Linked DNA regions of Homo sapiens. The gene in region 1 interacts genetically with each later gene. Each region holds a gene or a part of one and is shown in the gene's direction. Other genes may lie near its edges. The genes, in order: SSB, CDCA8, RPP38, BNIP1, MTOR and FAM98B.

Evidence for each region.
Region 2: changes in SSB (region 1) and CDCA8 together harm fitness more than expected from each alone (negative genetic interaction), as found in Homo sapiens cells (one large-scale study listed by BioGRID).
Region 3: changes in SSB (region 1) and RPP38 together harm fitness more than expected from each alone (negative genetic interaction), as found in Homo sapiens cells (one large-scale study listed by BioGRID).
Region 4: changes in SSB (region 1) and BNIP1 together harm fitness more than expected from each alone (negative genetic interaction), as found in Homo sapiens cells (one large-scale study listed by BioGRID).
Region 5: changes in SSB (region 1) and MTOR together harm fitness more than expected from each alone (negative genetic interaction), as found in Homo sapiens cells (one large-scale study listed by BioGRID).
Region 6: changes in SSB (region 1) and FAM98B together harm fitness more than expected from each alone (negative genetic interaction), as found in Homo sapiens cells (one large-scale study listed by BioGRID).

What each region holds. Positions count from the first base shown.
Region 1 is NC_000002.12:169,808,871-169,812,564, forward strand, and holds the end of SSB (lupus La protein), read left to right. Parts: coding exon 1-32; intron 33-1,412; coding exon 1,413-1,553; intron 1,554-1,987; coding exon 1,988-2,174; intron 2,175-2,312; coding exon 2,313-2,453; intron 2,454-2,797; coding exon 2,798-2,886; 3' UTR 2,887-2,949; coding exon of another isoform or gene 2,950-2,988; 3' UTR 2,989-3,194; downstream 3,195-3,694. Other genes in the region: rRNA N(6)-adenosine-methyltransferase METTL5, read right to left, coding at 2,950-2,988, 3,587-3,636. UniProt on the Homo sapiens protein: Binds to the 3' poly(U) terminus of nascent RNA polymerase III transcripts, protecting them from exonuclease digestion and facilitating their folding and maturation.
Region 2 is NC_000001.11:37,695,516-37,699,015, forward strand, and holds part of CDCA8 (borealin), read left to right. Parts: intron 1-394; coding exon 395-435; intron 436-3,389; coding exon 3,390-3,462; intron 3,463-3,500.
Region 3 is NC_000010.11:15,100,355-15,102,555, forward strand, and holds part of RPP38 (ribonuclease P protein subunit p38), read left to right. Parts: intron 1-1,863; 5' UTR 1,864-1,982; intron 1,983-2,201. UniProt on the Homo sapiens protein: Component of ribonuclease P, a ribonucleoprotein complex that generates mature tRNA molecules by cleaving their 5'-ends. Also a component of the MRP ribonuclease complex, which cleaves pre-rRNA sequences.
Region 4 is NC_000005.10:173,151,031-173,154,530, forward strand, and holds part of BNIP1 (vesicle transport protein SEC20), read left to right. Parts: intron 1-535; coding exon of another isoform or gene 536-664; intron 665-3,291; coding exon 3,292-3,383; intron 3,384-3,500. UniProt on the Homo sapiens protein: As part of a SNARE complex may be involved in endoplasmic reticulum membranes fusion and be required for the maintenance of endoplasmic reticulum organization. Also plays a role in apoptosis.
Region 5 is NC_000001.11:11,231,552-11,235,051, reverse strand, and holds part of MTOR (serine/threonine-protein kinase mTOR), read left to right. Parts: intron 1-786; coding exon 787-909; intron 910-1,564; coding exon 1,565-1,654; intron 1,655-1,738; exon of another isoform or gene 1,739-2,142; intron 2,143-2,523; coding exon 2,524-2,616; intron 2,617-3,500. UniProt on the Homo sapiens protein: Serine/threonine protein kinase which is a central regulator of cellular metabolism, growth and survival in response to hormones, growth factors, nutrients, energy and stress signals.
Region 6 is NC_000015.10:38,457,127-38,460,626, forward strand, and holds part of FAM98B (protein FAM98B), read left to right. Parts: intron 1-1,432; exon of another isoform or gene 1,433-2,614; intron 2,615-3,500. UniProt on the Homo sapiens protein: Positively stimulates PRMT1-induced protein arginine dimethylated arginine methylation.

The sequences.
Region 1 (3,694 bases):
CAAAACAAAAGTTAGAAGAAGATGCTGAAATGGTAAGTATATATTACTGCTATCTAGTACATCTGTAATTCGAAGTTAAATGAATAGCTTTTAAGTCTGAGGACTTTTTCAAGAAAATACGTAAGCAAAGCTATCTATAGTTGTTATTGCATTAAGTAATACATCAGGTATTATATTGAGGGAAAAGAGAAAACTAAGGATAGGAAATATGTTCTAAAATATGGAAAAGGCCGGGTGCAGTGGCCCACGCCTGTAATCCCAGCACTTTGGAAGGCCGAGGCGGGCAGATCAGTTGAGGCACGGAGTTCGAGACCAGCCTGGCCAATATGGTGAAACCCCATCTTGACTAAAAATACAAAAATTAGCCAGGCGTGGTGGTGCATGCCTGTAATCCCAGCTATGTGGGAGGCTGAGGCAGGAGAATCACTTGAACCCAGGAGGCGGAGGTTGCAGTGAACCAAGATCATGCCACTGCAGTCCAGCCTGGGTGACAGAGTGAGACCCTGTTTAAAAATAAAAAATATAATAAAACACAGGAAAATATATTTTGAAATATTCAGAAAAAGTTCATTTATGCCTAGAACTTATTTTTATGAGAAAATGTCCTATAACTTCTAAAGATTCTAATCATAGGTTAATACTAACATGACTTTTATTTTTGACTTAATAAGATACTGATGTGTATTTCCATTTAGAAAGTTACAGGTAAAAATTTTTATTTGGGGAAAATAATGACTATAAAATTTTTTTTTTTCTTTTTTTGAGACCGAGTCTCACTGTTGCCCAGGCTGGAGTGCAGTGGCGCGATCTCGGCTCACTGCAAGCTCCACCTCCCAGATTCATGCCATTCTTCTGCCTCAGCCTCCCGAGTAGCTGGGACTACAGGCGCCTGCCACCACGTCCGGCTAATTTTTTGTATTTTTTTTTAGCAGAGACGGGGTTTCACCATGTTAGCCAGGATGCTCTCGATCTCTTGACCTGGTGATCCGCCTGCCTCGGCCTCCCAAAGTGCTGGGATTACAGGTGTCAGCCACTGCGCCCGGCCTAAAAATTTTTTAAAGTATGATAAATACTGCCTAGAATTATTTTCCAAGATAGTTTAATAGCCAGATTTATGTAGTTTATAACTAATTAAATACCAGTTGTATAAGAGATCAAATAATATTGAAAGCCATTTTGGAATAAAGGATGACAAAGGAAAACACCAACACTATGAAACTACTTTATTTATTTATTATTATTATTATTTTTTGAGATGGAGTTTCGCTCTTGCTGCCCCGGCGGAAGAAACTACTTTAAAATAGCATTTTGGTTTCTAGTCTTTTTCTTGTATAGCTATAAGGTGGTGTGAGTCATTTCTGGTCTGTTGTTGCTTTTAAGAAACTTTTTGATCACTTTGTATATTTTTATAGAAATCTCTAGAAGAAAAGATTGGATGCTTGCTGAAATTTTCGGGTGATTTAGATGATCAGACCTGTAGAGAAGATTTACACATACTTTTCTCAAATCATGGTGAAATAAAATGGATAGACTTCGTCAGAGGAGCAAAAGAGGTTTGGATACATCCCTATCCTTTTTAGCAATCAGTTTGAAAATCTGTAGAAACTTAGACAAAATTAGTAGAAAGTAATTTTAAAAATTGTGTTTATTAAATTAGTTTCTACTTGATCATTTGTTATTGCCACTAGATGTGATGTCTGATATTTTCTGAATTATACTAAATTAGTTTCTACTTGATCATTTACTTTGTTGTTATTGTCACTATATGTGATGTCTGATAGTTTCTGAATTATACTATGAATAACTGTTCATACTGATGATTGCAGTTTTACTTCTGTAGCATTCCTTTTCTACTGTTCAGTAAAATTCATTCAAACTGGTAAAGACATGGAAGGTTTGCAGGGTAGAAAAAATTACTTTGGACAAAGAAATTAATTGTGGGACTAAAAACCAAGGGTATGGCTTTTGTTTTCTGTCTCTGGTATAGGGGATAATTCTATTTAAAGAAAAAGCCAAGGAAGCATTGGGTAAAGCCAAAGATGCAAATAATGGTAACCTACAATTAAGGAACAAAGAAGTGACTTGGGAAGTACTAGAAGGAGAGGTGGAAAAAGAAGCACTGAAGAAAATAATAGAAGACCAACAAGAATCCCTAAACAAATGGAAGTCAAAAGGTCATTTATTCTGATTTTTCTTTAACAGTTTGGTTGTTGAACCCATTTACTTGAGCAAAAACTTTAATCAGTGTTCAAAAACATTGACAAGAGACTTAAAAAAAGTTCTTTACAGAGTGCTCAATTGTGTCTCTACAGGTCGTAGATTTAAAGGAAAAGGAAAGGGTAATAAAGCTGCCCAGCCTGGGTCTGGTAAAGGAAAAGTACAGTTTCAGGGCAAGAAAACGAAATTTGCTAGTGATGATGAACATGATGAACATGATGAAAATGGTGCAACTGGTAAGTTTTTTTTAAGTCCTTTGGTAGTTTCATGAGAAAATTTCTACTTCCATAAATAAATGATTTGCCAGAGAGAATAGGGATTTGGCTTTTCAACTCCTGGATAAGTGCCATTCTTGGATTATTAACGATTTACCTCGGTTATGCTGTTGTATAAGTCAGGGACAGGATATTTGGAAGATGAATCTAGAGGTCAGGTCTGTACTAAGAGAAAAGCCTTTTCTCATTGGTGCAAGGAAGTTGTTGCATCTTTTTCAACAGTATCATTATTAGTAATTGTGCTCAGTATTAAACTAGAGCAGTACTTACGTTGAATTTAACAAAAATTAATTGTTACGTTATAGGACCTGTGAAAAGAGCAAGAGAAGAAACAGACAAAGAAGAACCTGCATCCAAACAACAGAAAACAGAAAATGGTGCTGGAGACCAGTAGTTTAGTAAACCAATTTTTTATTCATTTTAAATAGGTTTTAAACGACTTTTGTTTGCGGGGCTTTTAAAAGGAAAACCGAATTAGGTCCACTTCAATGTCCACCTGTGAGAAAGGAAAAATTTTTTTGTTGTTTAACTTGTCTTTTTGTTATGCAAATGAGATTTCTTTGAATGTATTGTTCTGTTTGTGTTATTTCAGATGATTCAAATATCAAAAGGAAGATTCTTCCATTAAATTGCCTTTGTAATATGAGAATGTATTAGTACAAACTAACTAATAAAATATATACTATATGAAAAGAGCAAAAACAGTTTTTGATTTTTTTTTTCTTTTTGTACCCAAAGCATTTAGGAAAGAACTAGAATATTAGCTATTGACGATGGGCCTTTCCCACAGGCCATTTATGGTGTCTCCTAGGCTGGCTTTGTATATTTACACAGGAAAGTTGGTAACACTAGAAATAATTACTTGTCACAAAGCTTTCCTTTTTTTTTCTTTTTCGAGACTGAGTCTCACTCTTATCGCGCAGGCTGGAGTTCAGTGGGGCAATCTCAGCTCACTGCAACCTCTGCCTCCTGAGTTCAAGCGATTCTCTTGCCTCAGCCTCCCGAGTAGCTGGGATTACAGGCATGAACCACCACATCCGGCCCAGAAAGCTTTTCAATACCGAATGTAGACCAGCCAAAATCAAGAGACTTACTGATTTCTTTTTGTGAAACTTGTATGATGCTGGCAGGTCATATCGAAGTTCTGTAAAACAAAAGCCACCTAAGGATAAAATTGTATTTCCAAGCGTTTACCACCCTTG
Region 2 (3,500 bases), on another chromosome or scaffold:
CCAGGAGACAGCCAAGGAGGCGCCACTCCACTCCAGCTTGGGTGACAGAGCAAGACTCTGTCTCAAAAATAAATAAAATTTAAAATATATTTTTTAAAAAGAAAAATAAGCAGAATTTTTGGGGTGATGTTTGAGCTGAGTTTTGAAGGATGAGTTAGAAATTTGTTAAGTACGGAGGTGAATTTCAGGCAGAGGAAATACAAAGTACCATGGCAACAAGTCATGAGAGTCAGTGGCACATTTGGGATATAACTTGGAGAAAGAATAGATTAGATGGTGAAGGTCCTTGAAGGTTAGACCAAGGGCTGGACCAGTTTTAGAAAGATAAATGGTACTATTAGGCAAGATGATTTATTGTTAAAATGTAATAGTAACTACAACGTTCTTTTTAAAGCCCTTGGAGGAAACAAACAGGCCCTGGAAGAGGCGGCAACAGTAAGTGACCTTTCCTATTTTCCAGCCAGTGGTTACTTAAGTCTAGTCCAGTCCCCAGATCCAACTAATAGATGCTTACTGTGGAAGAGGTTTCATAAAGGGACATCATCTGTTTGTGTCAACTGAAAAATTAGAGTTGGACCAGACACTGTATACATGAGACCCAGATAGTTCTGAGCCCTACAGAAGGTGGCAGTTCTGTTTTTGACCAATTTCTTGCAGTCCTTTGTTCTGAACTCTACAGCGGAAGTAGAAAGCCTCAAGCCCAAGTTCCTTTAAGCGCCTGAGTCATTACACTATGCATTGGCCTGCTAGATGATAAAGGTGTTTCATCATGTCGTACTGTAGAAGCAGTGCTTTTGCTTGGGATGCTCAGTATTCCCCAACCCCTCTCATCTCCTTCCTCCCAGCATCAGTGCCAGGATTGAAGGCAGTAAGATGGGGATGCAAAATAGAGCATTTAAAGCTGCACTGTCCAGTGTAGTAGCCACTGGGCATATGTAGCTATTTCAGTTAATTACAATTAATAAAATTAAAGAATTCATTTCCTCAGACATACTAGCCACATTTTACATGTTCAATACCTACATATGACTAGTAGCTACTCCATCAGAGAGCACAGAAATAGAACATTGCTACTCTTGCAGAAAGTTTTATGAGACAGCATTGGGAACTAGTCCATACATGGGCTTCACAGAGTCCCTAGGCACTCTAAAATAATATACAAACAATGCGTGTGTATGCACGCATTTGTGTATCTTTCTGTTAGTTTATTGTAGCCTTGATCAGATTTACAAAGTAAACCCCAAAATTACATCTTTTGTTGAGTTGATCAGAATCATTTGGAATATCAGGGTTTGAAGGAGTCTGACCACCAAGGGCACATAGCAGATCTCCGCCAGCTTCATTCAGAAGGTAAAGGTAATGAGGAGCCAATTATCAATTTGGAAAAAATTGGAGCATTTGGGAGAGAGGTGGGGATTATTCACCCCCCTACATACACTGAGCTCCAATGTTTTAAAAGAGTTACCTCTGAGATGAATTATGCTTACTAGCTAATGCAGTTCTCTCTTTTTAAATTAGAAATACAGAACTGCAAATGAGAACTTCTAATGTAATATGAGAGAGCCATTGTTACCACACCAAGTTGAGAGAATTCTAGCCTTGACTAATATGATTTAAAACTCCAGAAAGGAACGATAGAAAATCTATAAAAGCTCTTAGTTGGGAAGTGTGTTGGGGCTCCCAAGACCACCTCCAGGTTTGGTGATTCACTAGGAGGATTCATGGGGCTCAGCATACAGTCACACCCATGGCGATGATTTATTACAGTGAAAGTATACAAAGCATTAATCAACAAAGGAGAAAATTGCATAGGACAAAGTCCAGAGGAAACCAGGCTTCTAGGAGTCCACTCCCTGTAGAGTCAAACAGAACATGCTTAATTCAACACATATGAAATGCTGTCTACCAGAAAATCTGATTAGAGAGTCAATGCCCAGAGTTTTAACTGGGGGCTGCTCACATAGGCATCCTCTGCCTAGCACATGTCAAAATCCTAGACTTTCAGGAGGGAAGTAGGTGTTCAGCATGAGCCATATTGTTTGCATAAAGTTTAGGCACAGTGAGGCATCTTGTTAAGGAAAGGTGGGAATCTTTCTGAAATCAAGTTCCCAGATGCCAACCGAGGCCAGGCTTGCAAACAGGCCTTTCTATGTGTATCAGTCTCAGGCCTGCTCTGTTAACTGTCCTGCACAGTAGATGCCCAGTGGCCTGCCACCACTGATGACTCCATAAAATGCCAGTTGTTTCTAGAGATGGCAGAAGGTTGGCAGGAATGCCCCTACTTTCTGTTGCATCAAGCCTGGCAAACATCAGTAACTTATTACAGCCCTATTTCTTGCTAAGCCTAAGACAGCCTCAGAATCCTTCTCTGAGTATGTCAAGCAGTCCCTACCAGAAATGAAACCTGTGCCATTCCAAACCTGTAGTAATTATTCTGATGTTTACATGTGTTCTATAAGGAAAGGACTGTGAATCATGACTGCTCTTTGTAGTGCCCATACTTATTACCATATGAAAAAAAAACGAATTTGAATGGTGACTGGAAGCCTTTTTGAAGGACCCAGGATCATCATAGAAAACCTTATTGAGACCCTGTAGATTTATCGAAAAAATGGTAAGCTTGACACACCACCAAGTGTTGTAGAGGATGTAGATCATTAGGAACTTGTATTGTTTGCAGATGGGCTGTAGTCAAGGGTAACCACTTTGGGAAACAATTTGGCATAATGCGAAGGCTGAATATTTATGTAACCTATAATCCCTGTCATGTCCTATCCAAAGGATAGAGCCAAGGGGAAACTTGGACATGTACCTCAGACACATGTAAGACAGTTCAAGGTAGCAGTGTTTATAATAGCAGGAAACTATTGATGGAAGATGGACAAATCCATTGTGGTATATTCACACAGTGGGATATGATATAGCAATGAAAACAAATTAACTACAACCACAAAGAGTGGTGAAAACAGCCAAAACCAAACAAAATGCTTAAGTACACACTTGTGAAAAAGCACATCTGTGTGTGCACACATGTATACACACATATGCATGTATCTGTGAGCACATACACATGTACCTTTCGATAAAGCAAGTGCAATGATATGGTTACCCCTGGGGAATGAAGGATTAGGAGACTCATCACCTTTGGAAGAAGAGATAAGAAAATGGAACAAGGAATGAATACAGAGCCAGAAGCAAGTTATTGGCAATGTTTTAGGTCTTGGGCTGTGTGGTGGGTTTATGGGAGTTTGCTATATTGTATATTGTATCACTAACATTTAACAGTCTTATGTATTAAATAATAGTTTTAAAAAAGTTTTTATCTTGAAATATTGTTCCTCATATTTTGGTGGAATAAGCCTGGTGCTTTCTGGCTATGTTTGTCATAGGCTGACCTGGATATCACCGAAATAAACAAACTAACAGCAGAAGCTATTCAGACACCCCTGAAATCTGCCAAAAGTGAGTACCTTTCAAAACTCCTTGTTGTACAGAAAGAA
Region 3 (2,201 bases), on another chromosome or scaffold:
TGCATTGCATCTGGATGAGCCACTTTTCTTCCTGATTTCCTGAGCTCTAGGGGAGCATAGAGATAATGGGGTCAGGGGACACAGTGTGGCCACCGTGAAGGAAGCAGCTTAGGCCCCAGAAGTCTCCAGGATTGCTGTACCGAGATGACCAGGGTGTGATCTCTCACCCTAAGGAGCTGAATTTGGCTTTTCTGTGGGAAAGTGTCTGGGAAGAATATCAGAGACCAATAGCGCTCAGGGGGCCCTTTCTCGGGGCTGTCCAGTGTGGAAACACCCTGTCCTACACCAGTGGTTCCTGATTCCGGCTCTGAATCAGATTCACGAGGGCAACTTTTTTTTTTTTTTTGATATGGAGTCTTGCTGTCGCCCAGGCTAGAATGCAGTGGCGCGATCTTGACTCACTACAACCTCCGTCTCCTGGATTCAAGAGATTCTCCTGCCTCAGCCTCCAAGTAGCTGGGATTACAGGCAGGCACCACCATGCCTGGCTAATTTTTTTGTATTTTTTAGTAGAGACGGGATTTCGCCATATTGGCCAGGCTGGTCTCGAACTCCTGACCTTATGATCCGCCCGCCTTGGGCTCCCAATGTGCTTTGGTTACTGGCGTGAGCCACTGCACCCGGCCTGGGGCAGCTTTTTATAAGCACAGATGCCCAGGCCTTATTATTGAAGATTCCAATTCAGTAGATCTGGGTTGAGGACCAAGCATCTGCATGTTTTAAGAAGCCACAGGTTATTTTTGAGGTGTAGCAAGGATTGAAAGAACAGAAAACTTGGATTTGGAAAACTAGTTGTGACTTTAGGCAGTGAGTCAGTTTCCTAATGCACACATTGGGGGATTCTATAGGAATGCTGTAAGAAGCAAATAATACATGGAGAGAGTGCTTTATACAGCGATACACTGCACAGACACACTTGCCTTCAACATCAGCTGCCAGCCTAGTAAGTGGTAGTATAAATGCAAAGGATATAACTTCCTTTAGTTTTGCCAGGTGGGTCCCTGTGATTCTAGCTGAGCCCCAGGAAGGAAGGGAAGAAAACTGAGGGAAGAGAAGGGAGTGTGTAGTTGCCTCTGGGAAGGATAAAAGGATATGCCCTCTGGACCAATAGTTTATAACATTTTCCCCATTAAGCATCCTTCTACTCATTTTTCCTCAATGGATTAGTATCTTTAAATTTCATTACATTTCCCTAGTCTTCATGGAATTGCCAGCCAGAGAAGTCAGCTCGGGGTCCCCCTAAAAAGGAGGACTGGCCGGGAGTGGTGGCTCGTTCCTGTAATCCCAGCACTCTGGGAAGCTGAGGTGGGTGAATCACCTGAGGTCAGGAGTTCGAGACCCGCCTGGCCAACATGGTGAACCCCATCTCTACTAAAAATACAAAAATTAGCCAGGCGTGGTGTTGGGCACCTATAATCCCAGCTACTCCGGAGGCTGTGGCAGGAGAATCGCTTGAATCTGGGAGGCAGAGGTTGCAATAAGCTGAGATCATGCCATTGCACTCCAGCCTAGGCAACAAGAGCAAAACTCCGTCTCAAAAAACAAAAAAAAGGGAGTGTATGCCTGCATATGTATCAAATGCTGTAGGAAGGATATTCAAGAAATTTAGGGCCCTGGGAGGTGGGGAGACTTACAAAAGTGGACGTGACAGTGTTATTTGAAGTTTTAATCATGAGATGACTGTTCAGTTCTTTAAAATATCACACCTGATTGGTTGTGAATGGCAGAGGCCACCAGAGTATTTGCAGATTGGGAGCTCTACGTGGGTGGACATCGGGTCTTGCTTACTGTGAGCCCCAGGACCTAGAACACCACTTGCATACTGGAGGTGCTCAGATCATTTTTTTTTTTTTTTTTTTGCAGACAGGGTCAGATGTGTTACTGGGCTGGAGTGTGGTGGCACAATCACGCTCACTGCATCCTTGACCTCCTGGGCTCAAGTGATCTTCCCACCTCAGCCTCCCAAGTAGCTGGGACTACAGGTACGCCTCACACTTAGCTAATTTATGTATTTTTTGTAGAGGGTTTCTCCATTTGCTCAGAGTGGTCTCGAACTCATGGGCTGAAGTGATCTGTCCACCACAGCCTCCCGAAATTCTGAGACTGAAGGCATGAGCCAGTGTGCCAGGCCTAGAATATTTGTTGAGTGAATGCATGGAAGCCCAACTAGATAGCATTTTGGAAAACAGTAACAAGTTAGA
Region 4 (3,500 bases), on another chromosome or scaffold:
TTCACCGTGTTAGCCAGGCTGGTCTCGATCTCCTGACTTTGTGATCAGCCTGCCTCAGCCTCCCAAAGTGCTGGGATTACAGGCGTGAGCCACCGCGCCCGGTCAAAACTTATACTGTTAAGTATAATTTTATTATACGTATATTGGAAATTTTTCCATTTCAGTAATCAGAGACTGTCCTCATTTTTCTTTTTTTTTCTTTTTTTGAGACAGGGTCTTGGGCTGTCACCCAGGCCAGAGTGCAGTGGCACAATCTCAGCTCACCACAGCCTTGATTTCCCAGGCTCAAGCGATTTTCCTCCTGCCTCAGTCCCCCAAATAGTTGGGACTACAGGCGTGCGCCACCACACCCAGCAAATTTTTGTAGTTTTTATAGAGACAGGGTTTTGCCATGTTGCTCAGGCTGGACTTGAACTCCTGGACTCAAGTGATTGCCTGCCTCAGCCTTCCAAAGTGTTGGGATTACAGGCAGGAGCCACCACACCTGGTCTCTCATTCTTTTCTAAATAACTGTCATTTTTTTTTTTTTTTTTAGCCAGTTCTCTATCAAAGGGCATTTATTTGGACTGCTTCCACATTTTTTTTTAAGCTAACTTATTCCCTGACAGACTTTTCTTCAACTCAGCATGACTTCAACTCTCCAACTACACCTGTTACCTTCAGTGTGAGTATTTGTATGTTCTTTTTAAACATCTGGGTGCCCACCCAGTGTTTATTTCCTTCACTCATTAAAATGACCTCACCAATACGTGTACATTTACATATTTATTATGGCACCTAGGAAGGACCTAATAAGCACATGGCCAGTAAATGAATAACCCCATCCCAGTTTTAATCTGCGTTTCTTAAGTATTTACATACTCTTTTTGTATCTGGAAATAAATACAAGATTCCTGTTTGTTTGCCATTTTTAGCTTTTATTTGAATGTCTTTTTTGTGTATTTCCAACAAGATCATGTGATACTAGAGAACTGGCCTCATATCCTCAAAACTGGGTGTTCTGCACATGGTGAATCTTGGGCACTGACTGTGTATAAATATCTGTGTGTTTGTCTTTGTACATATAGCTCTCAAACTGGAATTTGAGGACTGCTCTCCCCCGCCATTCCTTTCTCCAGAACTATCACTGGTTCTCTTTGAAAGAACTTCCAGGCAATCTTTCATGAGTAAATTGTACATTTCTCCCCCTTTTTAATCCCTCCGCTTTTCCCATGCGTTCATTCTTCCATTCAGTGACTCAGTGCCCAGTATGTGCCAGGCACAAGGAATATATGTAGTGAATAATGTGAGATACAGCTCTGCTTATTCATAGAATTTACATTCTTTTTTTTTTTTTTGAGACGGAGTCTCACTCTGTTGCCCAGGCTGGAGTGCAGTGGCACGATCTCGGCTCACTGCAATCTCCACTTCCCGGGTTCACGCCATTCTCCTGCCTCAGCCTCCCGAGTACCTGGGATTACAGGCGCCCGCCACCACGCCTGGCTAATTTTTTGTATTTTTAGTGGAGACGGGGTTTCACCGTGTTAGCCAGGATGGTCTTGATCTCCTGACCTCGTAATCTGCCTGCCCTGGCCTCCCAAGGTGCTGGAATTATAGGCGTGAACCACCAGGCCCAGCCCATAGAATTTACATTCTAATAGGGAATACAGATTTTAAACAAATAATTATGAAAATAATTGATGACATTTGCAAAACTTTTCTAATTCACAGTTGATTATTTCTTTTATTCTCTACCTCAGCAATATTTGGAGGCATAAATTGAAAGTCATCTCTGTGCTATTGAAATGGTGGATACACAAACTTGTTCCAAACCAGTATGTGCAAATTGATACGTAAATCAGTAAATTAGTATATAAATGAGCAAATACATTGATGTTTCAGATCAATAGCGTGATTGAAGCTAGAACCTGTTTTAATTTGTAAACCAAAAAATGTGATTGGTATAATGCTATCTTTAATTATAGTCCCTCTTGATGGTTCTTTTATCTGAAGTTCTTGGGGTTTAATACTTCTGGGTATGTCTGCTGACCCTAACTTATAGTGGGTTATTTCCTTGGTGTTAGGTTATTTTGGACTGTGAGCGCTCATCTTAGCAGACCTTATCTGAGGGACTTTGTGCAGCTGGGTCGAGGCCAAGTCTCTACAGAGGTTTTTGCATTAGCTTCCCGCCAGGTCTCCTGAGATGATCACAAGTCTGACAACATTTTTTTTTTTTTTGAGACAGTCTCTCTCTGTCGCCCAGGCTGGAGTGCAGTGGCGCAGTCTTGGCTTGCTGCAAGCTCTGCCTCCCGGGTTCACGCCATTCTCCTGCCTCAGCCTCCTGAGTAGCTGGGACTACAGGTGCCCGCCACCACGCCCGGCTAATTTTTTGTATTTTCAGTTGAGATGGGGTTTCACCATGTTAGCCAGGATGGTCTCGATCTCCTGACCTCGTGATCTCCCCGCCTCGGCCTCCCAAAGTGCTGGGATTACAGGCGTGAGCCACTGCGCCCGGCCGAGAACACTGTTTATGTTCATTTCTCTTCATGGAGTTTCACGAACCACTCAGGGAAGATAAATTGAACCCTAGATCAGTGGAAGGAGCAGCTCCCTGGTTGGTTATAAATTCTCAGGGGAGTTTTTTTTTAACCCCTCTATTTGGAACTCATAGCAAAAAAAGGCAAGCATCTATGTTTTCCCTCTGTGCTGGTAGATGGACATTTTTTTATACCATTTTCCTGTGTCTGTAACCTTTCGTGGGTTTTAGATTTGTGGTGATCTCAGTTCAGCTTCTCAACCTCAGCCTCAGATGGCTCAGGGCTTCATTTTTCTGTCCCTGCACGAGCTCTCAAACCTTCAAGCGCTCAAACTGCCTATTACTCGTCTTTAATTAAATAGGCACAGAAATTGTGAGTATCTGGAAATGAACAGCAGTTTGATATTTTAATGATATCTAAGTGGGGGATCAGTGTGCTTGTATTTCGTCATTGTTTTTCTTTTCCTTTCGGGCCTGCCCTAGGTGACAGGAGCAGCAGCTCTGACGCCAGGACAGCCGTGCATCACTCCCAGGCTGACTATTCCAGCTCTTGTTCCCTTCCCACTTTTGGGCCATAGGGGTTTTCCTTACTTCCTTGTGGACTTAGCTATAGATTTAAAAGGATGTGTGTTATATGTTACCTAGCATTCCTAGGTGTTCTGTTTTAAAAGGGTGCTTCAAGTGCTATTGTATGCCCTTGGCAGAAATAGAAATGCTCTTCTGCTTTCATGTTGACTTTTGAAATCATTTTAACATGGAATTATTTTTCCTCAAAGGACCTGGAGCAGTTGGCTAAAGAGCAAGACAAAGAATCAGAGAAACAACTTCTACTCCAGGAAGTGGAGAATCACAAAAAGCAGATGCTCAGGTAGGCAGGGCCTGCCCCCGCCAGCGGCTTCTGCTGGCTCTTCTTGTTGCCTGTGAGCCTTGCACGTGTGTTTGCCTGATGGATCTGCTTTAATGCTGACTTAATGGTGTCTTTTTT
Region 5 (3,500 bases), on another chromosome or scaffold:
AAGTCAGTAACCTAAGACAAAATGTAATGTTAAATTGTAGACTCCTCTGGGTAGCTGAGTTAACCTGAGCTCTGTGACATCTGCTTTTGTCACTGCTCATCGATTTCCTTCTGGCAGCTTTATCCAGAAATCTGTCTATATTATGCTGTCTATGTCACCATGAGCAAGATATGCTGATTTGCTGGTGTCCTAAGGATGTCAGCTAGAACCAATGTGTTATCTCCAGTCAGTAAGGCTTCGGGGGATCCTGCCAGTGTGATCCCCACCTATTGAGGTTTATCTAGATATGCCCCAAACAGCTACAGAGTATCAGCACTTCTCTTGGCATCATAGCTGTTCTAACTGTTCTTTGATTCCTTTGCCATTATTTGTAGTCTTCAGTAATTTGCTGTCTGGACAAAGATTTTTCTCCCAAGGGGCCCTACCTTCTTTCCTCATTTTTATAGAACCCTACTCACAGCTCTCCCTGTTGGTTTTCTCAGTCTTCTCTGGCTGTGCTACATGGTTAAAAGCTCTGCTTTAGAGAGGGCCATGGGACATTGGAGTGCTGTGATAAAAGGAAAGGGAGCAGGTTTTCGAATAGTTTTTCTTCCTGTCACAGCTGTATCTAAGGCTGTTCTGCCTGTTGCAGAAAAGTCTGTTGCTCATTGAGTATCTAGCAGCTACTTCATCTGTCGTGGAGGTCTGGGTTTTTCCCCCAGTTCCCTGCCACTTTTTCTGTTGGACACAGTCTCTCTCTAGAATGTCTTCTGCCATAGAGAACATATGAGCCTTTCTTCCCTACAGATTTTGACAGAGTTGGAGCACAGTGGGATTGGAAGAATCAAAGAGCAGAGTGCCCGCATGCTGGGGCACCTGGTCTCCAATGCCCCCCGACTCATCCGCCCCTACATGGAGCCTATTCTGAAGGTAACACAAACCGAGAGGCTGGTGCTTTCTCTGTGCGTTGTCATCAGCTCATATGGGGAGATGGGAGTGTTTCAGTGTTCACTAGTACACTGAACAAAGTAGGTGATTTCTTTGCTCTCACGCTTGGAGACCAAAGGGCCATATCAAGCACTTTCAGTTAAAGAATACCAAGAATCTTATCAGTTGCAGGAAAGTGCTGTCCTTACAAGAGGTAAGAGTTAATGCTTCAGGCACATCATCGCAGATGTTTGGAAAGGAGAAGTAGGTAGATAGTAGCATAAAATAGCTCGCCCAAAATGAGGAAAAAATGAGCTTGAAAATCTGAAACAACCTTCAAATCTCAACACATTAGAGTCACGTGAAGTCCTTTATAATGTATGTTAATCTGGATGAACAATCACTGAGACTCGGTTTAGAGGAGACATGAGAAATACTTTCACATTATGGTGCTTCCCAGCTCTCTCACATGTCAGACTTAGACTTCATATGGAGAAAAGTTTGAGAATTTACATTCCAGAGAAATCTTGGATTCATAAAGCCTAGAAGGAATTTCTTTATGACTGAGATGGTCTCTTGGGTGAATTTTACTTATATAAAAGAAAGGTTTCTAGTAGAGTCTAATCTGCATTCATTTTCTCATAACTTCTTTCTCTAGGCATTAATTTTGAAACTGAAAGATCCAGACCCTGATCCAAACCCAGGTGTGATCAATAATGTCCTGGCAACAATAGGAGAATTGGCACAGGTAAAGGGGCAGCTACTTTTTCCATAGCGGAGATAGGGTGGAAAAGAAACTAACCTCTAAGGAAGTCAAAATACTATTTTTTTTTTTAAATGAAAGGTCTCACATATTTATTGCGGAACCCAGCCAACAATGCATTCATAACAGATTCAGAGAGAAATAATATATTCTCAATAAAACATGTCCAACTCTCCAGATAGTGGTGACATTTTCAGCTTGATATGGTAATATCATTGTGACCTTCAGACAGCATAAATGTGTGTGCCATCTCATGTGCAATTCCTTATAGACCCTGCTTGGTTCTTCTCCAGTGTCTTTTTTTGGAGTTGTACCTGGTTTTATTACCAGTTTTCATCCGAATCCACTGGGGAATGGGACGATTTTACTTTTGTTTCTTGGCCAGGAATTGCTTAATTCTGAAAGTCTTGTGAGAAGAATGGCAAGAATCAGAGTCAGGCACACACCATGATGGTGGAGAAAGGAAGAGAGGGCTTTTTTAAAAAAAATTTTTTATTTTATTTATTTGTTTTTGAGACAGTTTCACTTTGTCCAGGCTGGAGTGCAGTGGTGTGATCTTGGCTCACTGCAACCTCCATCTCCTGGGTTCAAGTGATTCTCGTGCCTCACCCTCCCAAGTAGCCGGGATTACAGGTGTGTGCCACCACACCTGGCTAATTCTTGTATTTTTAGTAGAGATGGGGTTTTACCATGTTGGCTAGGCTGGTCTGGAGCTCCTGATGCCAGGTGATCTGCCCTCCTCAGCCTCCCAAAGTGCTGGGATTACAGGCATGAGCCACCGTGCCCGGCCTCCAAAATACTTTCTAATGCCAGAATTTCTAACCCTTTCTGCCACCCTCTTTTTCATTTTGCAGGTTAGTGGCCTGGAAATGAGGAAATGGGTTGATGAACTTTTTATTATCATCATGGACATGCTCCAGGATTCCTCTTTGTTGGCCAAAAGGCAGGTGAGTATTACTGCTTCCTGATTGAGCAAGACAGACCCCATGAGTCCAGGGACTTTGCTTCTCTTTATTCACCTTAGTGTCCTCACCCAGTGCCTAGAACAGAGTGTGACACATAGTAGGTGCTCAAAAATATTTGTTGAATGAGTAAAAGTTAGAAAGATTTGAAACCAGAATTACCTGTTGTCCTGACCCAGAGTCAGTTTCAGTAATTATCGGGGCTGACTAGTGCCATTTTGTCTATACAAAAGAAAATGCAGGTCAATTGTCAGAGCCGTAGCTCTCAGAGGGAAAAAGAAAGCCTTGGCCACTGCCTATGAAGGAACAGAAGTTTAGCTCATCCTTGCCCAGCCCTGGTTCTGCTTTCCCAATTTGAGGCTATTAGATGACTAGACTAAAATTAAGAACAGTCTTAATTTATTTCTGGGCATGGCAGCTCACACTTGTAATCCTAGCACTTTGGGAGGCTGAGGCAGGAAGATTGCTTGAGCTCCAGAGCGAGAGCAACCTGGGCATGATGAGACTTTGTCTCTACTAAAAAAAAAAAATAGCTGGGCATGGTGGCATGTGCCTGTAGTCCCAGCTACTTGGAGGCTAAGATGGGAAGATCACTCGATTCCAGGAGATTAAGGCTGCAGTGAACTGTTATCACACCACTGCATTCCAGTCTCCAGTGAGACCCTGTCTCAACAACAACAAAAAATCTTAATTTCCTTTTGAATCTCCTGTTAATCATTTGGGATATGGAAGAATGATGTGTTTTCTTTGAGAAAGGTGGGAATTTTCTTTGTCTCTTGATCCAGTGATTGTTGCAGGGTTGTGTGCTTGATCAACCTTGGTTTTATGCCCTTTTGGGATTTCTGCTCATGGTTAGTGTCTTTACTGGA
Region 6 (3,500 bases), on another chromosome or scaffold:
ACATTACTGAACTTAGTGATTGATTGGATATTAAAATTCAAGGATTCATTTCTCTTTATTTTAAAAAATTTTTTAGATACAGGGTCTTGTTATGATACCCGGGCTAGTCTTGAACTCCTGGCCTCAAATGATCTCCTGCCTTGGCTTCTCAAAGTGTTGGGATTACAGGTGTGAGCCACCACGCCCCAACAGATTAATTTCTTCAGTTGGTATTTATTGAGCACCAAAATGAAATGATACACCTTAGAATCTAAATTGGATACAGAAGAATGTGAAGATAGGAGAGAGTTGGTAAATATGGAGAATGCAGAGGAATCAATGAATGGAGGTAATGATGATATCAAAGAATAGTTATAGGTGAGTGGTCGAAGAAGCAAGTGGAAGGATAAATAAGAGGTTGTGGTCAGGGAGCCACATGTTTGGATAAGTGATTTTGGAGGTGCAGTGGTTGTAAGTAATGGCAAGGGTGCAAGGGGGGCTGAGTGACATGTGCAGGTTGGAATTGAGAGCTCAGGGTGTGAGATAGGGTATACATACAGACATTAAAGAAACTCAGTGTAATGGCAAGAATAGAGGTGGAGAGGAAAACTGAGCAAAGGGGATGTTGGGGAGTGTCCAAGAGGTAATAGATGAAAACCACAAGTGAATGGGTGGCAAATCTGAGTGGCCTGTGCCTCAAGGAAATAGGAGATATTTATAAGATAATGGGAGAGCAGTGATAATGATGCTATTTTGGTAAGAAAGGAGGCCAAAACTCCTACTATCTGACCTTAAGGCATTTGTGAAAATAAAAATAATTAAAGCTAGAGATGGTAGGAATAACAATCTTACTTTTTTTTTTTTTTTTTAAGAAAGAGAATTTTCAGAGTCAAAAGAACAGAAATCAGTAATCTGTTCTCTTCCAGGGTGGGGAGAAAACCTCCTTCCCCATAGGTTCGAGACTATGGCTAGATGGTGAAGAAGGGAGCTCAGTACCCAACCTTGGGGAGACACAGAAAGGGCCCATGCCAGGCACTTAGCTAGAGGCAAGCGTAGCTTTTGGGCCACAAGACCTGATGGCCACTGGGGTACTGGCCTGGAAACAAGTCCTCATCTTCCCAGAAATGTCTTATTTTTGTCTGCAGCAGCTGGCTGGAGAAAGATTTTGGAAAGGTGTGTACCTGGAGCACCCAAAGGCATACCCTTCCTTTTTCCTTGGCATAGGCTTTATAACACTGAGGAAAGGTCATGGTTTGGCAATGGAGTCTTCAATAGTCTTCATCCCTGTAGAGTTCAGTGGCTTTTAGGGTGACAGGAGAGGAGACGACTTGAAAGACCAAGAGTCTTTCAGCTTCTCCCCCACTGAAACGCTATATGCTGGGGCCACAGTTCATGGCAGAACACACACTCACACACACATCTCGGGAACCCAACAACTCGGGAGCAGGTAGTTCTGGGTATTGTTGGTCTGGCATTTGCCTACTTGGCATCTAAGCTGTCCTAAAGCTCCTTACAATCACTTCTCACTATTTCCAGGCCCATGTGGTGAGGCCCTCCAGCTTTCACTCTGTCCGTCAGGTGATCCTAAAGGCACAGCATAGGAAAGACCCTTACTGGGATGACCACTGCTTGGAAGCAGGGAAGGCTAAGAGGCCTGCCCCTACCCAAGGCTGGTATAGATGTCCTCTGCTCTGCTTCTCAAAGACTGGGAACAGGTTCAGCAACTCAGTATCTGCCATGTCATCAAACCAGGACTGCACAGGCACTGCATTCTCTGGGTGGAAGATGTAAGAAGCAGACAAGTTGTCCAGGATGAGGGTTTTCCTCAGGTTCCTCCCCAGGCGGCTGAGGTTCCTGACTTAGCAGCCCTGGTGGAACCACAGGACTCATGGAATAGGTGAGCCCGGAACACCCCACACCGGCCAGCAGATCCGTCACAGGGTTGGCATACTTGGCCAGGTTGGCAGTGAAGGGAACACATTCAAAGAGTTCTCTCATTCGTCTCTTTCCACGTGAGCTCTTTTGAGGACAGAAACCTGCTTGAGTGGTCTCCTCAATCTCTGTAGGCACTGTGAAGCTAGCATTGTTGCTGGGCTTAAAGATGCACAAGGGCTTCATCCAGGTCAGTGACCACACAGATCCTCCTTTGATCTTCCTCTGTCACCTTGGGGCAGACACGTCCCTGGGATCCGATAAAACTGGTACTGGAGACACTGGAGCAGATCCGACTTAGCAGTGGTGTTGGCTTCCTCCTTATATGGATGAGCTCAGTGGAAGAGCTTGACTGGCCATGCTGGATGCGAAAATAGCAGACAAGGGCCTTGAAGATGTTATATCCACGAGGCTTCTTAAGGAGGGCTTGGAGACCAGGCCTTGCTTGGTGAGCACCAGGGCATCTTCCCCTGTGCCTGGGTGATGATGGAACTGTGCTCCATCTAATTCCACAGGTGCGGGCTGGTTGGGTGGAAGAACCAGTGAGCCCATGGTCTGGGCTGGGCTGGGGGGCCTGGGTTTGGGCTTGCTGCAACTCCTGAGACTCCCGACTCCCACAGCTGTTTACATACCCCCTCTCCTTTCCTCCCTGGGCTGCGAAGCGAGGTGGCCTGTACCAAGGGTGGGCGCCCGGAGATGGGCTCCCTTGGGTACCCTGGCTCCAGTCTCCTAGCAGCAGCTCTGGGCTTCTCAGTTTGGGTCCAAAATGGAGAATCCAGAGTGAAAACAAGAGAGGAATAATCTTTCTGAGAAGAAATGGACAGTATAGCAAAATATCCACTGTGTTGTAGATGAAAGATAGTGGACATTTTTAGGAAGCAGAGAGAGGTAGAGAGTTGGATGAGGGGCAAAGACAATAGGTTGGGTAAATGATGGGAAAAGAAAGGGTCTTCTGTTTTATCTCTTGGCTGATGAAAATAGAAAGTAAATTAGGCCCTGGTTGTATTGTTGAGGAGAGTTGCCAGCAGCCCTAATGGACTGAAGATTTGGATCACCCAGCTTGAAGTAGTGTCTGACCAGCAACTATGCTTCCAGGGTATGAGGCTTTGAGGGAGGGCCTAGGCCTAGGGGAGATGTTCCCAGTGTTTGGAATAACAGTAGCACTTTGATGAATAACTAAGAATATATAGAACAAACTAGGAGCATGGTTATTCTCTGTAAACGCAGAATGGCATTGGAAATCAAAGCCAGTATGAAATAAATGTGGTAAACACTAAACAGTTGCTAAATGTAGCATAAATAGACTCTTAAATGCCTGCTGTAATTTCTCATGTACTGCAAGAGGAGAAGGAGTGATGATAAATATTGAGAGTTTTTTTTTTTAAATGAAAGTAAAAAAATAAGTACTATGCTGCTTAAGAGAGGTCTGTGGACTAGCAGCGTCATCATCACCTGGGGAGTAGAAATGCAGAATCCCAGACATCATTCCAGCTCTACTGAATTAGAATCTTTATTTTAACAAGACCCTCAGGAGATTCATATGCACATAAAAGTTTAAGAAGTACTGTTCTAGCCAGAAAAGTGCTTTC